Linked DNA regions of Homo sapiens. The main gene of each other region encodes a partner of the protein of the gene in region 2 in a complex. Each region holds a gene or a part of one and is shown on either strand. Other genes may lie near its edges.

What was found. The genes of interacting proteins can lie anywhere in the genome.
Region 1: PRPF6 (region 2) and SNRPD3 share a complex: the UniProt entries of both Homo sapiens proteins name them as parts of the U4/U6-U5 tri-snRNP complex.
Region 3: PRPF6 (region 2) and SNRNP200 share a complex: the UniProt entries of both Homo sapiens proteins name them as parts of the U4/U6-U5 tri-snRNP complex.

The regions. Positions count from the first base shown.
Region 1 is NC_000022.11:24,558,975-24,565,998, forward strand, and holds part of SNRPD3 (small nuclear ribonucleoprotein Sm D3), read left to right. Parts: intron 1-7,024. UniProt on the Homo sapiens protein: Plays a role in pre-mRNA splicing as a core component of the spliceosomal U1, U2, U4 and U5 small nuclear ribonucleoproteins (snRNPs), the building blocks of the spliceosome.
Region 2 is NC_000020.11:63,998,120-64,005,143, forward strand, and holds part of PRPF6 (pre-mRNA-processing factor 6), read left to right. Parts: intron 1-925; coding exon 926-1,020; intron 1,021-1,483; coding exon 1,484-1,640; intron 1,641-2,957; coding exon 2,958-3,120; intron 3,121-7,024. UniProt on the Homo sapiens protein: Involved in pre-mRNA splicing as component of the U4/U6-U5 tri-snRNP complex, one of the building blocks of the spliceosome.
Region 3 is NC_000002.12:96,302,547-96,309,541, reverse strand, and holds the start of SNRNP200 (U5 small nuclear ribonucleoprotein 200 kDa helicase), read left to right. Parts: upstream 1-3,995; 5' UTR 3,996-4,104; coding exon 4,105-4,149; intron 4,150-4,673; coding exon 4,674-4,837; intron 4,838-6,211; coding exon 6,212-6,383; intron 6,384-6,995. UniProt on the Homo sapiens protein: Catalyzes the ATP-dependent unwinding of U4/U6 RNA duplices, an essential step in the assembly of a catalytically active spliceosome. Plays a role in pre-mRNA splicing as a core component of precatalytic, catalytic and postcatalytic spliceosomal complexes.

The DNA of each region.
Region 1 (7,024 bases), on a different chromosome or scaffold from region 2:
GCCACAGGGGTAATATCCACACCCCCAGGACTTTTACAAAGATCAGATGAGCTGTATGTGTGCCATAGCTGCTCAGTGCCTCACATACTGTGAGTGTTCAACATATGATACCTATTGCTTTTTTCCAGATGAGAAGGTCAGAGAGGTAAAGCACCTTACACCGCGGTCAGGCATCCTGACCATCCATTGGTTTGCAGGGTTCATTTATTTGTGATTTTTCTGTAGCTTTGAGCGTCTGTCATCTTCCTGCGAGGTTGACAAGCTTGGTCAGTTCCCTGAATGCAGAGAAGTAGACCTCTGGTGACTCAGGTTTATTGCATTACTGTCAATAGATCAGTTTATCTATTGAGGGTAGATAAGTTTATCATCTCTCATATATCCAGTCCTCTGGCTTAAGGCATGCTCATCCACTTTAAGGTTCTTTAATTTGGTGAGGAGAATGCAAGACTTGGGTTAGTGAAGCTTAATGGGTTTGTTCAATTAGCTGTATGTATTTGGACAACTTGCTGGGTTTCCAGGGCCTTTGTCATCCCATCCGTAACGTGAAGGTGTCTAACCAGATAACCTTGGTAGCCATTCAGAGATGCAGTCAACATGACACAAAGTGCACAGACCTTGGTGTCCGACAGACCTGGAATCAGCTTGTAGCCTGCCCCCTAGGGTGACTTGGGGCGAGCTTAGCTTTGGACCTCCTTCATCCTCTGGTCCCTCCTCTAAATCAGGGATAAAAATAGCACCTTGGCCTCAGAAGGAACCATGCCTGACCAATGGTGGGGGACAGCCACCTGCCTCCCTGCTTGTATTTGTATGCTAGTGCTACCATAACAAAGTTTCACAGACTGGGCAGCTTAGACAACACAAATTTATTTTCTCATAGTTCTGAAGGCTGGAAGTCTGAGATCAAGGTGTTGGCAAGGCTGGTTTCTTCTGAGGAATGTGAAGGAAGGATCTGTTTCAGGCCTCTCTCCTTGCTTATATATGGCTCTCTTCCTGTGTCTTCACTTGGTCTTCCCTCTGTAGTGTTTCTGTCCAGATTCTTCTTATAAGGATACCATGCATGTAGGATTAGGGCCCACTCTAATGACTTCATCTTAACATAATTATGTTTATAAAGAATTTTTTTTTTTTTTTTTTTGAGATGGAGCCTTGCTCTGTCACCCAGGCTGCAGTCTTGCTCTGTCACCCAGGCTGGAGTGCAGTGGCGCGATCTTGGCTCACTGCAACCTCTGCCTTCCAGGTTCAAGCGATTCTCCTGCCTCAGCCTCCTGAGTAGCTGGGACTACAGGCATCTGCCACCATGCCCAGCTAATTTTTGTATTTTTATATTTTTAGTAGAGACAGGTTTCACCATATTGGCCAGGCTGGTCTCGAACTCCTGACCTTGTGATCTGCTCGCCTCGACCTCCCAAAGTGCTGGGATTACAGATGTGAGCCACCATGCCCAGCTTGCTTGCTTTTTTTTTTTTTTTTTTTTTTTTTTTTTTTTTTTTTTGAGAGTCTCACTCTGTCGCCCAGGCTGGAGTGCAGTGGCATGATCTCAGCTCACTGCAACCTCTGCCTCCTGGGTTCAAGCACTTCTCATGCCTCAGCCTCCTGAGTAGCTGGGACTATGCCCAGCTAGTTTTTCGTATTTTTAGTAGAGATAGGGTTTCCCCATGTTGCCCAGGCTGGTCTCAAACTCCTGAGTTTGCCTCAGCCTCCCAAGTGCTAGGATTACAGGCGTGAGCCACTGCACCTGGCCTTTTTTTTTTTTTTTTTTTTTTTTTTTTTTGAGACAGAATCTTGCTCTGTTGTCCAGGCTGGAGTACAGTGGCACAATCTCAGCTCACTGCAAACCTCCGTCTTCCCGGGTTTAAGCAACTCTCTTGCCTCAGCCTCCTGAGTAGCTGGGGTTATAGGCATGGGCCACCGTACCCCACTAATGTTAATATTTTTTGTATTTTTAATAGAGATGGAGGCTCATCATGTTGCCCAGGCTGGTCTCTAACTCCTGAGCTGAGGCAATCTGCCCACCTTGGCCTCCCAAAGTGCTAGGATTACAGGCATGAGCCACTGCACCCAGCCTTTTTTTTCTTTTCCTTTTTCTTTTCTTTTTTTTTTTTTTTTTTTTTTTTTGAGATTAAGCTTTGGTCTGTTGACCAGGCTGGGGTGCAGTGGTTTGATCATAGCTCATGGGCAGCCTTGGACTTCTGGGCTCAAGAGATCTTTTCACCTCAGTCTTCTAAGTATCCAGGACTACCAGTGTGCCCCACCATACCTGGCTAATTTTTAAATTTTTTTGTAGAGACGGAGTCTTGATATGTTTTTCAGGCCAGTTTCAAACTCCTGGCCACAAGTGATCCTGCTGCCTCAGTCTCTCAAACTCCTGGAATTACAGGCATGAGCCACCACATCTGGCCTGTAAAGATTTTTTGTCTCTAAATATGATCACATTCTGAGGTGCTGGGTATTAGGACTTCAACAATGAATTTTTTTGAGGGATACAATTTAGCCTGTAACAGGATGTAGAGGCCTCACTGGGTCTATCAAAACCTAGGCACATTGAATAAGAGCCAGCAGACTGTGGCGTAGCTAAAGCTGGTGGTGGGTGAACTCTGAGCACAGTTTAGTTTGTTCAGCACATCTCAGGCTGTGAGGCTTGCCTGTCCTTCCCAGATCCAGTCATTCTGCCTTTTGGGAATGAGAACATCCTCTTAGCACTTTTCCTTGCTTGTTCAATAACATTTTCTGTTATAAAAGTGGGGTGGGACAAAATGTGGTGGCTACTCCTATAATCCCAACACTTTGAGAGGCTGAGGCAGGAGGATCACTTGAGCCCAGGGGTTCAAGACCAACCTGGGCAACATGACAAGACTTTGTCTGTAAAAAAAATAAAATAGACGGATGTGGTGGCACATGCCTGTAGTCCCAGCCATTCAGGTGGAGGCTGAGTTGGGACGATTACTTGAGCCCAGGAAGTCAAGGCTGCAGTGAGCTATGGAGTGCCACTGCACTCCAGCCTGGGCGACGGAGTGAGACCTAGTCTCACACACACACAAAAGCACACCACAACGATTCGGAAAAGATAAATAGAGGATCTCACTCTGTTGCCCAGGCTAGTCTTGCACTCCTGGACTTAAGCGATCCTCCCACCTTGGCCTCCCAAAGTATTGGAATTACAGGCCTAAGCCACACCTGCCCTGTTTTGGGGTTTTAGTATTTACTTTTTATTCTATCCTCTTTCAGAAATAGTTAGACCCTGTCTCTTCTGAAAAGCAAAAAAGTTTAAAAATTATCTGGATGTGGGGCTGGGCACTGTGGCTCACGCCTGTAATCCCAGCACTTTGGGAGGCTGAGGCGGGCAGATCACGAGGTCAGGAGATTGAGACCAGCCTGGCTAACACGGTGAAACCCTGTCTCTACTAAAAAAAATACAAAAAATTAGCCAGGTGTGGTGGCGGGCGCCTGTAGTCCCAGCTACTCGGGAGGCTGAGGCAGGAGAATGGCGTGAACCCAGGAGGCAGAGCTTGCAATGAGCCAAGATCGCGCCACTGCACTCCAGCCTGGGCGACAGAGCAAGACTCCATCTCCAAAAATAAAAAATATATTATCTGGATGTGATGGCTTATGCCTGTAGTCCCAGCTACTCCATAGGCTGAGGCAAAAAGGATCACTTGAGCCCACCCAGCAGTTCAGGCTGCATTAAGCTCTGGTCGCACCACTGCACTCCAGCCTGGGTGACAGAGCAAGACCCTATCTCTAAAATTAAAAAAATTCTATGGCAGGATAAAAGTAGATGCATAGATCATGGTGCAGGTAAGCTGGGGTAGAATGTAAAATGAAGCCAAGCAGTCAGTATCCAGAAATGTAAACCTGAATCTCTCTGTACATTGAATAAAGGTATATTCCAGTGTAAGATTAAGCAGGGAAGATCATCAGTTCCAAAATGCATAGTGTTCTTAAGTTAAAATAGCAATTGTGTGGATTTCCCTGGCACTCAGATACAGGAGACACTATTAGATGATATCCTCGACAACATCCCCATACAAAATACCCTTTTATGGTCCCTCAAGTAGTTTTAAAGTATCCTGTTATCTTAGCACTGTTTTTGACATTTGAAAATGCAAAATATGGCCAGGCACATTGGCTCATGCCTGTAATCCCAGCACTTTGGGAGGCTGGGCCAGGGGGATCACTTGATCCCAAGAGTTTGGGACCACCCTGGGCAACACAGTGAGACCCTGTCTCATATATGTGTGTGTGTGTGTGTGTGTGTGTGTGTGTGTGTGTATGTGTGTATGTATGTATATATGTATGTATATATATGTGTGTGTGTGTGTATATATATATATATTTTTTTTTTTAAAGGAAGAAGAGGAAATATGTGTATGTGAAACTCAGGATGAGGTCCCTGAAATGGTGCTTATCGGGTCAGAGGGTGTGCATCTGAGGTTAAGCTGGGAAGGCAGGGAGCTTTTGTTCTCCTTCTCATTCCGACAGCTGCAAGCCAAGCACTGGTGGCCAGTGCTGCAGGATAGGGCATCAGCTGCAGGATATGGCATGTTGGTCAAAATGCTGTTGGCATAAGTGAGAAAAATAACAATACTCCAAAATATGTCCCCAGTTTTATAAAAATGGACCCAAATTATAAATGATACAAGCAAATACAGAGAGTAATGGTCAAACCCATTTCACTACATTCAAAATGACTTAATTCTTAGAAGTTTTGGTGGGAGAATGTGGTGTAGAGCTCTGCACAAGCAGACATTGTGCTTTTGGGGCTTCAACATGACCACCCAATCACTGATGGGACTGTTTGAAATCTGTTTTGTTGGCTTTGGCATATAATAGCCATCTTTGGAAAACTGGTCTCTGTATGGAATATGGTCTTGTGTCACTGTATAAAAATGAGAACCCAAAAGAAGCTCTCACATGATTGGGTCAGAAAATTGCCCATAACTATTGCTAGGAAAGTTTTTGAAATCTCTGAATTCAATGTAATTGAATTTCTTTAGACACCTAGCCCTCTAGGTTGAAGGAAAACCAGTTTTTTAAACTTATCGTATACTTTTTTTTTCCTGTACTGTTTGTGTGTGGATTGCATTCATCATGCTCCTCTACCCCATAATACTTTTGTATTTCCTAAGAACAAAGATAGGTAGATGGCCTTAGTTGGTATTCGTATTATAGCAGTGGCATCCAAGCACCTCTGCCTTTGTGTATGTGTGAAATTGTCCTAAAGAATGCATTTCTGGTGTATTGACAGGCCTGAGACACCCCAACACACCTTCACAGTCCTGGAGCTAGCTTTCTCCATCTTGGCCCCAGGTATCTAAGAAAGTCCCACCACTTTGTGCTACAAAGATTCTCTCTCTCCCCCTCAGGATGTCATTTCAGTTGGGTACCTGGCTTATACCATATGTGTTTCATTGTGGCTGTTGAGGAAAGTTGATTAAACTGGGTGTTCCTGCCTGGAGTTGATTAGGATCTGGTTCACTCAAAAGTTGCTGCCTTGGGCTTGTGATACAAACACAGGTCAGGCTTATTAGCAAGCTCTAGCAGGCATGTGTGCAGTGAGACTGTGGGGTTTTGTCCACAGCAAGCTGTTCTTAGCCAGTGCTACAGGGAAAGCGAGAGCAGTAGTGAGCCTGGTTGTTAGGGTTAAAATAGGAGTCAGAGGACACTGGACTCTCCTGCTTCAGCCAGGACATAGTTCATTTATGGAAATGCCTAGATTAAGTCTTGTCGGACTTATGCAACAGCTTCTGTCAGGAAAGGAGTGAGATGTGCCCCTGTGCTGGAGGGAGTGTGGCTTAGCAGTGGCACAGCTCCCAAAACACATTTTAGCTGTCAATCAGATTTAGCATGTACTGAGTCTCTATTATGTATTAGGCAATAGAGACAGCATTTAGACATACTTTGCCTTGTTCATTTTTTTTTTTTTTTTTTTGACAGGGTCTTACTCTGTTGCCCAGGCTGGAATGCAGTGTCATAATCATAGCTCACTGCAGCCTTGAACTCCTGGGCTCCAGCCATCCTCCCACCTCAGCCTCCCAAGTAGCTGGGACCACAGGCATGCACCACCACACCTGGCTAATTGTTAAAAATTTTTGTAGAGATAGGATCTTGTTACATTTCCCAGGCTGGTCTCAAACTCCTGACCTCAAGCAGTCCTCCCACCTTGGCCTCCCAAAGTGCTGGGATTACAGACATGAACCACTGTACCTGGCCTGATTTGCTTTTTAACAATTTCAGGAAATGTGCAGTGGTTAAGAGTGTGAGTTAGAAAGAACTGGGTTCAAACTCCAGCCAGGCCATGTAAGCGTGGTGTGACCTCAAGCAGGAGAATAGAGGGAAAGGGCATGGGTTTCTGGGGACAGATCTGCCTCTGAATGGCTATGTCACTTCATCTCTTTACCTTGTAGGATTTTGTGGGGTAACATGAGCTGCCGTGGGGAAATCACCTGGGCCAGCACTTGATGTCTAATAAGTGCTCAGTAACTGTTGGCTTTGTTGTCTTGTATTTTCAAAACTCAGCTTTGTAGTTGAGGGAACGGAGGCTCAGGGAAGCCTGGAGATATACCTAGGGTTACACTTCTGACAAATGGCAGAGCTGGATCTCACCTATAGGTCTTTAGGCCTATTTTGTGTCTTCTACAGAGTCATGAGTGTGGCACAGTCCCCAAAACACGTTTTTTGTTTGTTTGGTTTGTTTTTTGTTTTTTGAGACGGCGTCTTGCTCTGTTGCCCAGGCTGGAATACAGTGGCGTGATTTTGGCTCACTGCAACCTCTACCTCCCGGGTTCAAGTGATTCTCCTGCCTCAGCCTCCCGAGTAGGTGGGACTACAGGCACCTGCCACCACACCCGGCTAATTTTTGTATTTTTAGTAGAGCCAGGGTTTCACCGTGTTTGCCAGACTGGTCTCAGGTGATCCACCCACCTCGGCCTCCCAAAGTGCTGGGATTACAGGCATGAGCCACCGCGCCCAGCCCCAAAACACATTTTAATTGTCAGTCAGATTCAGGTGAGCCTGAGTTGTATCC
Region 2 (7,024 bases):
GGTCTTGCTCTGTCACCCAGGCTGGAGGGCAGTGGCGTGATCTCGGCTCACTGCAGCCTCTGCTTCCCAGGTTCATGTGATTCTCCTGCCTCAGCCTCCTGAGTAGCTGGGACTACAGGCATGTGCCACCACGCCTGGCTAATTTTTGTATTTTTAGTAGACACGGGGTTTCACCATCCTGGCCAGGCTGGTCTCGAACTCCTGATCTTGTGATCCACCCACCTTGGCCTCCCAAAGTGCTGGGTTTACAGGCGTGAGCCACCACGCCTGGTCAAAAATTACACTTTTTTTTGTAGAGACAGAATCTTGGGAGGCTGAGGCAGGAGGATTCCTTGAGCCCAGGAGCTGGAGGCTGCACTGAGCTATGATTGCCACTGCACTCCTGCTTGGGTGACAGAGTGAGACCCTGTCTCAAAAAAATAAATAAAAATATAGATCTTGGACAGACGCGGTGGCTCACGCCTGTAATCCCAGCACTTTGGGAGGCCGAGGCGGGCGGATCACGAGGTCAGGAGATCGAGACCATCCTGGCTAACACGGTGAAACCCCGTCTCTACTAAAAATACAAAAAAATTAGCCAGGTGTGGTGGCGGGCGCCTGTAGTCCCAGCCACTCGGGAGGCTGAGGCAGGAGGATGGCGTGAACCTGGGAGGTGGAGCTTGCAGTGAGCCGAGATTGCACAACTGCACTCCAGCCTGGGCGACAGAGCGAGACTCCATCTCAAAAAAAAAAAAAAAATAGATCTTTTTCCATACAGAAGAAATTTGTTATTATCACAAGGTGTTGTCTGAGTGAAATGAAGGCTGTTTTCCTTCTCCTTCTGACTGCTCTCTCAGGGTTGTGGGAGGGGCACCAGGGACCCTCTGAGAACTTTGTTTTGCACCTGGTCATGTCCAGCTGACTCTTAGCTTGGCCTGTCTCACAGGTGTCTGACTCCGTGAGTGGACAGACCGTCGTTGACCCCAAAGGCTACCTGACGGATTTAAATTCCATGATCCCGACACACGGAGGAGACATCAAGTGAGTGCTTTGCAGAATCGCTGGGCTGGGATGGAGACTCTAGTTGCCTAGGGTATTTTGGATTTTATATGGACAGTATGCTGTCAAAATGGGACATGGCGGTTCTAAGAAATGTAAAGTGGAGTAGTTTGTTTTTTCCATTTGAAATGTATCTGTATCCATTCATTGCGTACACTCAATGTGTTACATATGATACTGCAAAGTCCCTGCCTGTGCTGGGCAGGAAAGCAGCTGGCTGTGTCCCACATGTCCCATCTGGACCTTCGGTTCTCAGCGTTTGTCTGCGGGGAGGCTACAGAGGCTTGGAATAGTGCGCACTGAGGTTTTGAGTTGGTTTTTGTAACTCAGGACATCAGGACTGATAGTTCTTACATTGTGACTGTGAAGTGGGTGCCCTCATCCCAGGTCTCGGGTGCACCCCTGACAGCATGGCCTGATGCCGTGTGCACTCTCCCTCTCATAGTGATATCAAGAAGGCGCGACTGCTCCTCAAGTCTGTTCGGGAGACGAACCCTCATCACCCGCCAGCCTGGATTGCATCAGCCCGCCTGGAAGAAGTCACTGGGAAGCTACAAGTAGCTCGGAACCTTATCATGAAGGGGACGGAGATGTGCCCCAAGGTGAGGTATTTCCTGGGAGGCGTTTCCTGGGAGGCTGCGTGATTGTGGCCCCTACGGGAGTAAACTTGTTAGAGCAAATCTCTTTGTCTTTTGGTATTGAAACTACAGACAATAGGGCAGGCTGGGGGAGGATGTGAAAAGCAGCCAAGGGCTTTTTCCTGCTTGTTTTCATGTGGAGTGAAGGCTAATCCACCACTTTTTTTTTTTTTGGAGACGGAGTCTCGCTCTGTCACCCAGGCTGGAGTGCAGTGGCACGATCTCGGCTCACCGCAAGCTCCACCTGCCAGGTTCACACCATTGTCCTGTCTCAGCCTCCAGAGTAGCTGGCACTATAGGCGCCCGCCACCATGCCTGAATCCACCACGCCTGAATCCACCACTGGTTTGACGGCAGGCTAAGCTTCATTATAAAGAGCTCAGTTGGTCAGCTCTTCACCCGCCTAATGGTGGCCAGTCACGGTGGCTCACGCCTGTAATCCCAGCACTTTGGGAGGCTGAGGCGGGTGGATCACTTGAGGTCAGGAGTTAGAAACCAGCCTGGCCAACATGGCGAAACCCCGTCTCTACTAAAAATATGAAAGTTAGCCAGGCGTCGTGACAGGTGCCCATAATCCCAGCTATTCGGTAGGTGGAGGTTGCAGTGAGCTGAGATTGCACCATGCTGCTCCAGCCTGGGCGACAGAGCGAGATTCCGTCTCAAAAAAAAAAAAAAAAACAACAAAAAAGAACGACCCGAGCAGATGTGCAGTCTCTGCTTTGTCCATGGAGTTGTCCTGAAGGAAATCATGCTCTTTTCACAAAGTGGTGTTTCATTTTTTTTTTTTCTTTTTTTTTGAGTCTCGCTCTGTTGCCCAGGCTGAAGTACAGTGGCGTGATCTCAGCTCACTGCAACCTCTGCCTCCCGGGTTCAAGCAATTCTCCTGCCTCAGCCTCCTGAGTACCTGGGATTATAGGCACCTGCCACCACACCCGGCTAATTTTTGTAGTTTTAGTAGAGACAGGGTTTTGCCATGTTGGCCAGGCTGGTCTCAAACTCCTGACCTCATGATCCACCTGCCTCGGCCTCCCAAAGGGCTGGGATTACAGGCGTGAGCCACCGCGCCCGGCCATTAGGTGTTCTTCAGTCAGACATATGGTAGCCATGTTCCCAAGTGTGGTTATAAGGGGGCGACTCCTGGTGCAGGTGTGTTAGAGGCTGAGCTAATTGGCTTTCGTAAATTCTGGGGCCCGAGGATCTGCTCTGGAGATCTGTGCCTGCTGCCCTGTTGCGGCTTCCAGCCTGCACTGAGCCTTATTGGTCTTATCTCTTGCCTCACAGAGTGAAGATGTCTGGCTGGAAGCAGCCAGGTTGCAGCCTGGGGACACAGCCAAGGCCGTGGTAGCCCAAGCTGTCCGTCATCTCCCACAGTCTGTCAGGATTTACATCAGAGCCGCAGAGCTGGAAACGGACATTCGTGCAAAGAAGCGGGTTCTTCGGAAAGGTGAGCCTCCCTCGGAGGTGCTGCTTTCTCCCTCCTTGGGGCCCCTCCTCTCAGCAGCTTTCCTGCTCCTGGCTCAGGCTTTTGGTGAGAGTGGATAAGGAACCAGGGACATTTTTCAGGCCTTTTCTCAGGCTGGGTTGCCTCTGCCCTTGGACCCCCATGGGGGAGGGATACTGTGGTGGGCAAGTTCCCATCCTGGAAGGGATGCTTGGGTTGAGCCCTCACTCCTGCCTTTTTCCAGTGTGTGATCTTGGATGCTTGGGCGGTCACTCTGGTCCAGGCTTCCCTCATCTGCAGGGTGAGAACAACGGTAGCTCAAAGCCTGTGTCCTGGGGCTCTGGAGATGGTCTGTGTGAAGAGCTGAGCCGGCACCTGGCACGTGCAGACCCGTTGTGGGTGTTACTCATTTTCTCTCCTGAGAAGGCACCAGAGCCACACGTTGATTGAACTCTTTCCTGCTGCTGACGAGGCTGTGCCTTCTGCTCCCGCGATGCAGCGTGTGCCGTCAGCTCAGGTCAGATAACGACAGACGGTGTGCCTACCAGGCAACCTGATTCCATCCAGGGATTCCTGCCAGGGTAGAGCTTTTGTGGGTAGTTTGTTTATTTTTATTACTGTGGATTCATAAAAGGAGCACTGTTTCTCCTGTCACTGGAAGTGTGTAGTAGATGCTGCTCTTGAACTGGGTCCAGAACGAGTGCTAGTCAGGGGGCTGTTCTGAAGCTAATCTGTGCAGGTGGCTTCTTTTTTTTCATTTTTTGTTTTTTTTTTCTGGTTTTTTTTTTTTTTTTTTTTTTGAGATGGAGTCTCGCCCTGTCGCCCAGGCTGGAGTGCAGTGGCGTGATCTCGGCTCACTGCAAGCTCCGCCTCCCGGGTTCACACCATTCTCCTGCCTCAGCCTCCTGAGTAGCTGGGACTACAGGCGCCTGCCACCACGCCTGGCTAATTTCTTTTTGTATTTTTAGTAGAGATGGGGTTTCACTGTGTTATCCAGGATGGTCTCGATCTCTTGGCCTTGTGATCTGCCTGCCTCGGCCTCCCAAAGTGCTGGGATTCCAGGCGTGAGCCACTGCACCTGGCCTATGCAGGTGGCTTCTATCCATTTTTTTTTTTTTAGACAGAGTCTCGCTTTGTCGCCCAGGCTGGAGTACAGGGGCACGATCTTGGCTCACTGCAGCCTCTGCCTCCCGGGTTCAAGTGATTCTCCTGCCTCAGCCTCCCGAGTAGCCGGGATTACAGGTGTGCGCCTCCATGCCTGGCCAATTTTTGTATTTTTAGTAGAGATGGGGTTTCCCCATGTTGGCCGGGCTGGTCTCAAACTCCTGACCACAAGTGATCCTCCTGCCTTGGCCTCCCAAAGTGCAGGGATTACAGGCGTGAGCCCCTGTGCCTGGCCTTTTCTTTTCTTTTTTTTTTTTTTTTGAGATGGAGTCTCACTTTGTCCCCCAGGCTGGAGTGCAATGGCACCATCTTGGCTCACTGCAACCTCCGCCTCCTGGGTTTAAGCAATCCTCTTGCCTCAGCCTTCTGAGGAGCTGGGACTACAGGCACCTGCCACCACGCCTGCTTAATTTTTGTATTTTTAGTAGAGACGGGGTTTCACTGTGTTGACCAGGCTGGTCTTGAACTTCTCACCTCAAGTGATCCACCCACCTCGACCTCCCAAAGTGCTGGGATTACAGGCGTGAGCCACTGTGCCCGGCCAGATTTTTTTTTTTTTTTTGAGACAGCGTCTTGCTCTGTCACCCAGGCTGGAGTGCAGTGGCACGATCTTGGCTCACTGCAGCCACCACCTCCCAGGCTCAGGCGATCCTCCCAGCTTAGCCTCCCAAGTAGCTGGGAGTATAGGTCCCACCCCCATGCCCAGCTATTTTTAATTTTTGGTAGAGATGGGATCTTGCTGTGTTGTCCAAGCTTGTCTCAAACTCCCATCCTCAAGTGATCCTCCTGCCTTGATCTCCCAGAGAGCTGGGATTACAGGCATCAGCCGTCGCATCCAGCCTATTCTTCCTGAATTTATAGCCTAGGAAAAATAAAGTGTATTTTATGGAATCAAGGGCAGTTTTCAGTGAGAGCTTTCCAGCTCTTGTTTTTCCAAATGTCTTTAAGCGAAATATCCCATTGAGGCTTCTGTGCTGATAGGACCGTGCAGATGAGGGCTCTTTGGTAGAAAGCCCCTTATCAAATATAGTTTCATTCACTTACTGTCTACGTCTGTTAGAAGACAGGTGAAGGCTGCTTGCCTGTGATGCATGTTCCCCCGACCCTGTGCACTCACATGTGAACGTGCTTTCCTCTGTCGAGGCTGGTTTCTTGACCGCAGCCCAGCTGCTCAGTGAATGCTCAGAGACAGCCTCTTTTATTTTTTTTTATTGAGACAGAGTCTCGCTCTGTCGCCCAGCCTGGAGTGCAGTGGCACGACCTCGGCTCTCTGCAAGCTCCGCCTCCCAGGTTCACGCCATTCTCCTGCCTCAGCCCCCCAAGTAGCTGGGACTACAGGCGCCCGCCACCAGGCCTGGCTAATTTTTTTTTGTATTTTTATTAGAGATGGGGTTTCACCATGTTAGCCAGGATGGTCTTGATCTCCTGACCTCATGATCCACCCGCCTCGGCCTCTCAAAGTGCTGGGATTACAGGCGTGAGCCACCGCGCCCGGCCAGAGACAGCGTCTTATAATGAGGTGGCCAGGAACAGAAAGTTAGCACCTGTCTGGGTTTGTAGAAATCAGTTTATCTTTTTTCAGCTAGGAAGAAATAGTTCTTTGATGAAGAGCCCATGAAAGTCTGGGTAATTAGTATTGTTTACTTAGAAAAGCTCTATTGAATTCTTCCTGCCACAGTTTGATGAATGATCATGAATGTCTTTGTGGCCACTCCCTGCTCACCACCAGATTGTCTGGGTTCATTTCCAGTTGGTTTGGATTTGGAGATGGGAGTATGCTGTTGGAGGCGGGGGCCTTCGGGGAGTGTTGAGGGACTGTGTTTCCACGGCTGTTCTCTCAGGGAGTGGCCTCCTGGCTGTGCTCTCTCAGGCAGAGAAGCTGGGCTAAGGTGGAATGAACCCAGGATCTCCAGGATGGCCTTTGCCGCTGCCCTAATACTGGTCCTGGCCTGCCCTTTCCCAAGAGTGTTTCCAAAAACTGTATTCTTTTCCTGGGGTGAAGCCCAGCACTGCTTCATTTGGTTATTAGCAAACACTTACACGTTGCTTGAAGGGTCTGGTTTTTGAAATTAAGATGACAGCTACTTCCACTGGTGACTTAGGACACCTGCCAGCCAGGGAGCCTGGCAGTGCATGGTCTCTGTGAGCTCTGGGTCGCTGTTGGGCTGAGCTGACACCTTAGTCCTTTGTTGGGAGAATGGGCGTTTTGGGTGCTGATCTTGAGACCTGAGGAGGCTGAGTAACCTTAGGCATGGTGCTTGGCCTCTGAGCTTCCATGTCTTCCTCTGTAAAAGGGAAGAGGGCTTTCAGGATTGGGGAGGGTGCAGCATGTGAGCTTCCTGGCCAGGGTGGGGTGTCCCACGTGCAGAGTCCCCTGGGGAGGCCCGACTGGCAGCTCCCCTACAATAATGCACTCACATGCTGTGTACTCCGCTAGTTAATGCAGATGTGTGGAAGTGGAGTTATTTTACACTAACGCCATATGCTCTGGCCTGTGAAGCGTGGCATCCTTCAGTGGCCGTCGCCAGCGTGTCCCTCTGGGGGCACAGGAATGGCACAGTTCAGGTTGAGGGTCTTCCCTGCAGTCACGTGACCCCCGGAGAGCATGTTGGCCTCTGCACGGTCACGTCTTCATGGCTGTGTCTAGCATTCAGAATACTCTTCTGTTCTAGGCCAACTTCAGGGGTGTGTGCTTCCTCCACTTCTGCTCATAAAGTCACACTCCTTGAAGGCCATTGTATCA
Region 3 (6,995 bases), on a different chromosome or scaffold from region 2:
CTGCACTCCAGCCTGGGCAACAGCAAGACTCCATCTCAAAAATAAAAAAATAAAAAATAGAGACAGGATTTCACCATGTTGGCCAGGCTGGTCTTGAACTCCTGACCTCAAGTGATCTGCCCATCTCAGCCTCCCAAAGGGTTGGGATTACAGGCATGAGCCACTGTCCCTGGCCTTAATATGTTTTTGAGATTCATTCATGTTGTGGCACACAGCAGTACTTCATTGCTTTTTGTGGTTGAATAATATATTGTATTGTATAGAAATAGCACATTCTGCTTATCCATCATCAGCTGATGAACATTTGGGTTGTTGCAATATTTTGGCTATTGTGAGTAGTGCTGCTATGGACATTTGTGTACAAATGTTTATGTAGACATGTTTTCAGTTCTGTTGGGTAGATTCCTAGGAGTAGAATCGCTGGGTCATAGGGTAACTCTATGTTTAACTTTCTTTTTTTTTTGAGGAGTCTCGCACTGTCACTCAGGCTGGAGTGTAATGGCACGATCTTGGCTCACCGCAACCTCTGCCTCCCAGGTTCAAGCAATTCTCCTGCTTCAGCCTCCCGAGTGGCCGGGATTACAGGCATGTGCCACCATGCCCAGCTAATTTTTATTTTTATTTATTTATTTAGTTTGAGATGGAGGTTCACTCTTTTTGCCCAGGCTGGAGTGCAATGGCATGCTCTCAGCTCACTGCAACCTCCGCCTCCTGGGTTTAAGTGATTCTCCTGCCTCAGCCTCCCGAGTGGCTAGGACTACAGGCTCACGCCACCACGCCCAGCTAATGTTTGTATTTTTAGTAGGGACAGGGTTTCATCATGTTGGCCAGGCTGGTCTCAAACTCCTGACCTCGTGATCCACCCGCCGCGGCCTCCCTAAGTGCTAGGGTTACAGGGGTGAACCACCACGCATGGCTGTTGAGCATTTTTTCATGTGCTTATTGGCCAGTGTATATTTTCTCTGGAGAAACGTCTGTTCAAATTCTTTGCCCAGACCAGGAAAGGTGGCTCAGCCTGTAATCCCAACACTTTGAGAGGCTGAGGTGGGTGGATCGCTTGACCCCAGGAGTTCGAGAGCAGCCTGGGCAACATGCCAAAACCCCATCTCTACTAACAATACAAAAAATTAGCTGGGTGTGGTGTGTGCCTGTAGTCCCAGCTACTTGGGAGGCTGAAGTAGAAGGATCACCTGAGCCTGAAGAGATTGAGGCTGCAGTAAGCCATGATCGTGCCACTGCACTCCAGCCTGAGCAACACAGTGAGATCCCCCATCTCAAAAAAAAAAAAAAAAAAGTAAAATAAATTTCTCTTTGCTTGTGGCTCCTTTAGGTCCTGGCTGACTGTCATTTTCCTGGGCCTCTCTTGCTTCCTGAAGACTTTTCTCTTCCCTTTTCTACATCCCAGTCTAACCCCAGCTCCTCTTTCCTTTCTCATGTGGGGCAGTGACTCCTTTGACTTGTCTTCACTAGACACCTTCCCCCATTTTCAACAAGTTGGCCCAGGAAGTTTCCCTGAGCCCCTTCCGCAGAGTGAGGAAGCACGGCTGTCATTTTTCTTTTCTATCTTTAATTTAAAAATTGTTTTTATTTTTTGAGGGAAGAGTCTTGCTATGTGGGTCAGCCTGGAGTGCAGTGGCACAATCCTAGCTCACTGCAGCCTTGAAGTCCTGGGCTCAAGCAATCCTCCTGCCTCAGCCTTCCAAGTTGTTGGGACTACAGGCACACACTACCAGGCCTGGCTACTTTTTAATTTTTTGTAGAAACAGGGCCTCACTATGTTACCCAAGCTGGTCTCAAACTCCTGGCCTCAAGCAATCTTCTTTCCTCAGCCTCCTAAAGTGTTGGGGTTATAGGCATGAGCCACCACACCCAGCCTGTTGTTTTCTTTTCAAAATCATAATTATTTTCTTCCTTATTTACATTTTAGTGTGACGATTGTTCCAGGGCTGCAGTCTCCTCTTGTGGAAAATAAGGGAACCAGACTACTCCATCTCTAAGGCTCCTACCAGGTCTAACATACTATGGAAACTTATAAGTCCATCTGAATGACTAAATGCAGGATTTACATTTGGTAGAGCCTGATTAGAGAGGAAAAGAAAAGATGGGGAAAGTTTCCTTTTTTTCTTGCTTCACAGGTTTGCCCACAGCCCAGCTGCATCTGTGAACATGAATGCTACTTCTACAGAAACAGAGTGGAATCTCCGAAATACCTTTGAGACCCTTTCGTGTCAGGTGGGTGGGCCACAGCCTGATCATGGAATAAAAGTCAGCCTTAAGGATTCAGATTTCAATAACTTTCAGTGAACCCCACCTTGAGTCAGGCACTTTGCTAGGTGCTTTTAAACACACTATCCCATTTAATCACAATGGGAGGAAGGTTTTATTGCCTCAATTTTTTTTTTTTTAAGACAAAGAGTCTCACTCTGTCATCCAGGCTGGAGTGCAGAGTTTGATCTCGGCTCACTGCAACCTCCACCTCCCAGGTTCAAGTGATTCTCCTGCCTCAGCCTCCTGAGTAGCTGGGATTACAGGCACCCACTACCACGCCTGGCTAATTTTTGTATTTTTAGTAGTGACAGGGTTTCACCATGTGGGCCAGGCTGGTCTCAAACTCCTGACCTCAAGTGATCCGCCTGCCTTGGCCTCCCAGAGTGCTGGGATTACAGGCGTGAGCCAGCGTGTCCAGCCAATTGCCTCAATTTTAAGGATGAGGAAAATGGTGCTCACCGAGAGGCCAGGTAGCTAGCTACTTCAAAGTCACACAGCCACTGAGGAGCAGAGCCATGAGGACTCGACTGTCCCTTGGGAAGACGAGTTATTAAAAAAAAAACAAACACCCACCAAAGCAGCAAACTCCATGCCTACAGGGGCTGGGCAAGTAAAAATAAGGAGATGGGCAGGCATGAGAAAACAGGAGCAGTGGGAAGGACTTGCCTATTCTCTGACCTTGGCAGCTGCTGACCAGCAGCAGGTCATGCCATGCAGCAGTGTGGGTGTCATGTGGCTGATTTTCTAGTATCTCAACTGATGGGGGAGAGCCAGAGTTTGCATGAAATTATCCCAATTTTTAAAGAAGGAGCCAACAGTGAGCCAAACACGATACCACTACAGAACAAATCTGGTCTAGGGGACTGCTATTGAGGATGAATTCCTTTGGCTTAACACCCATCCTCCTGTTCATTCATCTTCTCAAAAGCAAACATGCTCTAAGTGAGGAGGGAGGTCACCTTCAGCCATAAGGCGCCATTCTACTGGCGAGAAGTGGTGGGGAATGTGGGACAGAGAAGACTTTGTAGCTGGGGAAGAAATTAAGTCATAGTCACCAAGGATTTGGCCCTGCCTTCACCGGTTTCCCTGGGCGGCAGGGAGGGCCCTACCATAGAATGTTACCGACAAGTGGGAGCAAATGGGGGCCCCGGCCCTGTTCGTTCAGCTGGGTGAAAACGAGGGTCTTGGGGGCACAGGTTTAGGTGGGATTGGTGGGGGATAGTAGCTTTCTTTTTCAATTGTTGAACACAGAAGAGAAACCCAAAGCAAGGCGCCAATCATTAAAACACACAAACACAGACACACGCGCAAGTCACCTTGCTCGCTGGGTACTTTAGTTACCTCAAACGGAAATGGGGTTTTCGGCCCCTCTTTTCCTGCCTACCTCATGGGACTGTTGCCAAAGAGGAAGGAACCGGAAGGAAAGGTCTTGGGACAGGACAGGGGCTAAGCAGCCGTGCATTCGTTATGATGTGAGGGGTGCCGGGGGCTGGAGACTGAGGTCGGGGAGAGCACGGGCCCTGGGTCCTTAGTGCCAGCGGGCGGCCAGAACCAGAGTGCGGGGGTCTAGGGATTCGGGGACCCAGACGCACCAGGCCCACATATCCCGCTCAGAAGGGTGCGGAAAGCCGCGCGCACACGGCAGGGACACGCCCCAGACACGCCCCGCCCCGCACTTCTGGGGCGCGACCCGGAAGCGGAAGGGAACCCGTTTCTTTTCCTTCCCCAGTGCGTCTTTCCTGCGTCGTTCCGGCGCGGCGGGAGCAGAGATCTGCGGCCGTTTGCAGCTTGCGGTAGGGAGGCGTGGTGGTCTGAAGCCTCCGAGCAGCCGCGGCCATGGCGGATGTAACCGCCCGTAGTCTGCAATACGAGTACAAGGCGGTGCGTTTGGTCTTGGGGAAGGATTCCAGGCTCAGGAGTCCAATGGGGAGGGGGAGGCTGAAAAAGGGAGTTTCAGTCTGAAGGCCTACAGGAGAGCCACGAAAACGAAGGGGAAATGGAATCGGGGTGAAGGTGGGGGTTATACGATGACGTGAATAACCTACTGGGGTCTGGGGAGCGCTAAGATCTCTCTAGGAGGAGTTTCTCGAGTACCTTCAACGCTAAGCCCTCCCCCTTCCACACGTCACTCCCAACCCACTCACTACTTTTCACAGGTGTGGGTTATGATGGGCGCTGTTAGGAACAAGAATTGTTTAGCTGATTCGACAGCGCATAAGACTTATTCAGCTGTACGCTTCTGCACAGCGTTATACTATGCAATTCTTAAGGAAAATATATTTTTATTACGATTAGTGATGATAAGCAACTAGTTACTACGATTTTTTCCATCAGCTGGGGTAACTATGATAGTAGGAATTGGCCCTGCTCATGTCAAAGCTTCAATAATGTTTTGATCTTTTCAGAACTCGAATCTTGTGCTCCAAGCTGACCGTTCTCTCATTGACCGGACCCGCCGGGATGAACCCACAGGAGAGGTGCTGTCCCTTGTTGGGAAGCTGGAGGGCACCCGTATGGGAGACAAGGCTCAACGGACCAAACCGCAGATGCAGGAGGAAAGAAGAGCCAAGTGAGTGCCAAGGGGATACTATTTTTTCCTTCAGATCCAAAGTCTCTTCCCTTTAACATTCGAGCAGCATTTTTGCTGGAATGCTTGGTGTAAGATCAGTGGCATTAAAACAATTCAGTGAAGGTAAAAACAGACCAGGAGAGTTTAAAGATTTTTTGGCCTTAACAAGTGCATCTCAAGTGGAAAATAACTTGTTGGTACCTTTTTCTTACATGTGTGTTTCTGGTCCATAGACAGATCTTAATTTTCTTCAGGGTATTTTCAAGACCCTTGCTATTCCTATGTCCCAGTAATTCGTTTTCCTTTTTTCCCATTACTAACTTCCTACCCCTACTTTTTCCATTTACTCTTGTCCACGTTCTACCTATTTTGTTGTAACAAACTAATTTAAGCATCCATAGTATGAAAGACAGGTTTCTTTCTTAGTTTGCATTTTTTTCCTTTATTTTTTTTTTTTAAGATTTCTTGGGGATATGTTTCAAAAACTTACCTTTACCTCATCATTATCTTTTGATCCTGAATATCTTGGTGTCTTGCTCCCTTTCCTATGATGAAGTTTCCAAAATTCCTAGGCTTAGTTTGATTAAAGTAGTTATGTTTGAAATGAGTTAATACATTATCTCCACTTTGTGCTATATCTTCTTTTCCAGTTTTGTTATACTTTGTTGATAGTCAACGGCAGTAGATTCTGTTAGAGCTTGGTTCTCTAGCTAGAAAGGGAAAATGCATTGGAGAGGTGAAAAACTAGTCAAAATCCTATTATATAATAGTCTCATACAATGTATGAAGGGTTGTACTTTTTTTTTTTTTTTTTTTGAGACGGAATCTCACTCTGTCACCCAGGCTGGAGTGCAGTGGCGTGATCTCTCTCACGGCAACCTCCACCTCCCGGGTTCAAGCGATTCTCCTGCCTCAGCCTCCTGAGTAGCTGGGATTACAGGCGCTCGCCACTGTGCCCGGCTAATTTTTGTATATTTAGTAGATACAGGGTTTCTCCATGTTGGCCAGGTTGGTCTTGAACTCCTGACCTCAGGTGATCCGCCTGCCTTGGCCTCCCAAAATGTTGGGATTACAGGCGTGAACCACTGCACCTGGCCAAAGGGTTGTATTTTTTAAATGAGAAACATCTCATTGTAATGTTTAGTGCATCTAGTGAGAAGATGATAGGGAATTTTTCTTTTTGTCACTGTGTCCCATAAAGAAATACTCCTGCAAGTGATTAAGGCCAAACGGAATCATTTGCTGAGGCTCAGATACCTGTTTTCAGATATTAACTTCTTGCCATGAAGCTGAGGAGAGGAGGGTGGGCTTGATCCAGTCTTCCCTTGGGGACGAAAGGTTCTGCCATTCAATATCACATTGCATGTCCATTAGGCGAAGAAAGCGTGATGAGGACCGGCATGACATCAACAAGATGAAGGGTTATACTCTGCTGTCGGAGGGCATTGATGAGATGGTGGGCATCATCTACAAGCCCAAAACTAAAGAGACTCGGGAGACCTATGAGGTGCTACTCAGCTTCATCCAGGCTGCTCTTGGGGACCAGGTGAGTGTGATATTGTGAAATATATATTAGGTCTTTATTTCATTTTCTGGCATACAGCTTCTAAGATCCTTGGAATCTTCGAAGTGCTAAGTATCTTTTTGTATGCTGATGAGTTGACTGATGGCTGGCAGCACTTAGGTAGTTCAGAATGGAGGCTGGTCATTTAATCAATCATGCCTACATAATGAAGCCTCCATAAAAACCCCAAAAGGACTAGGTTTAGAGAGTTTGTGGATAGCTGCACACATGGAGGTTTCTGGAGGGTGGTGCGCCTGAGAGGGCCTGGTAGCGCCACACCCATTCCCACATGCCTGCCCTGTGTACCTCTTCCATCTGTTGTCTTTTGGTAGGCATCTTTTGTAATATGCCTTATAGTAAAAATAAGTGTTTCCCTGATCTGCTCTAGAAAATTAGTTGAACCCCAAAAGGGGATTGTGGAAACCTCGATTTATAGCTGTATAGTGAGAAGCACAGGTCAAACAACCTGTGCTTGTGACTGGCATCATGAAGTGGGAGGCAGGCTTGTGCGACTGAGTCCTCAGTCTGTGGGATCTGACGCTATCTCCAGGTAGTTAGTGTTGGAACGGAATTGAATTTGAGGACCCCCAGCTT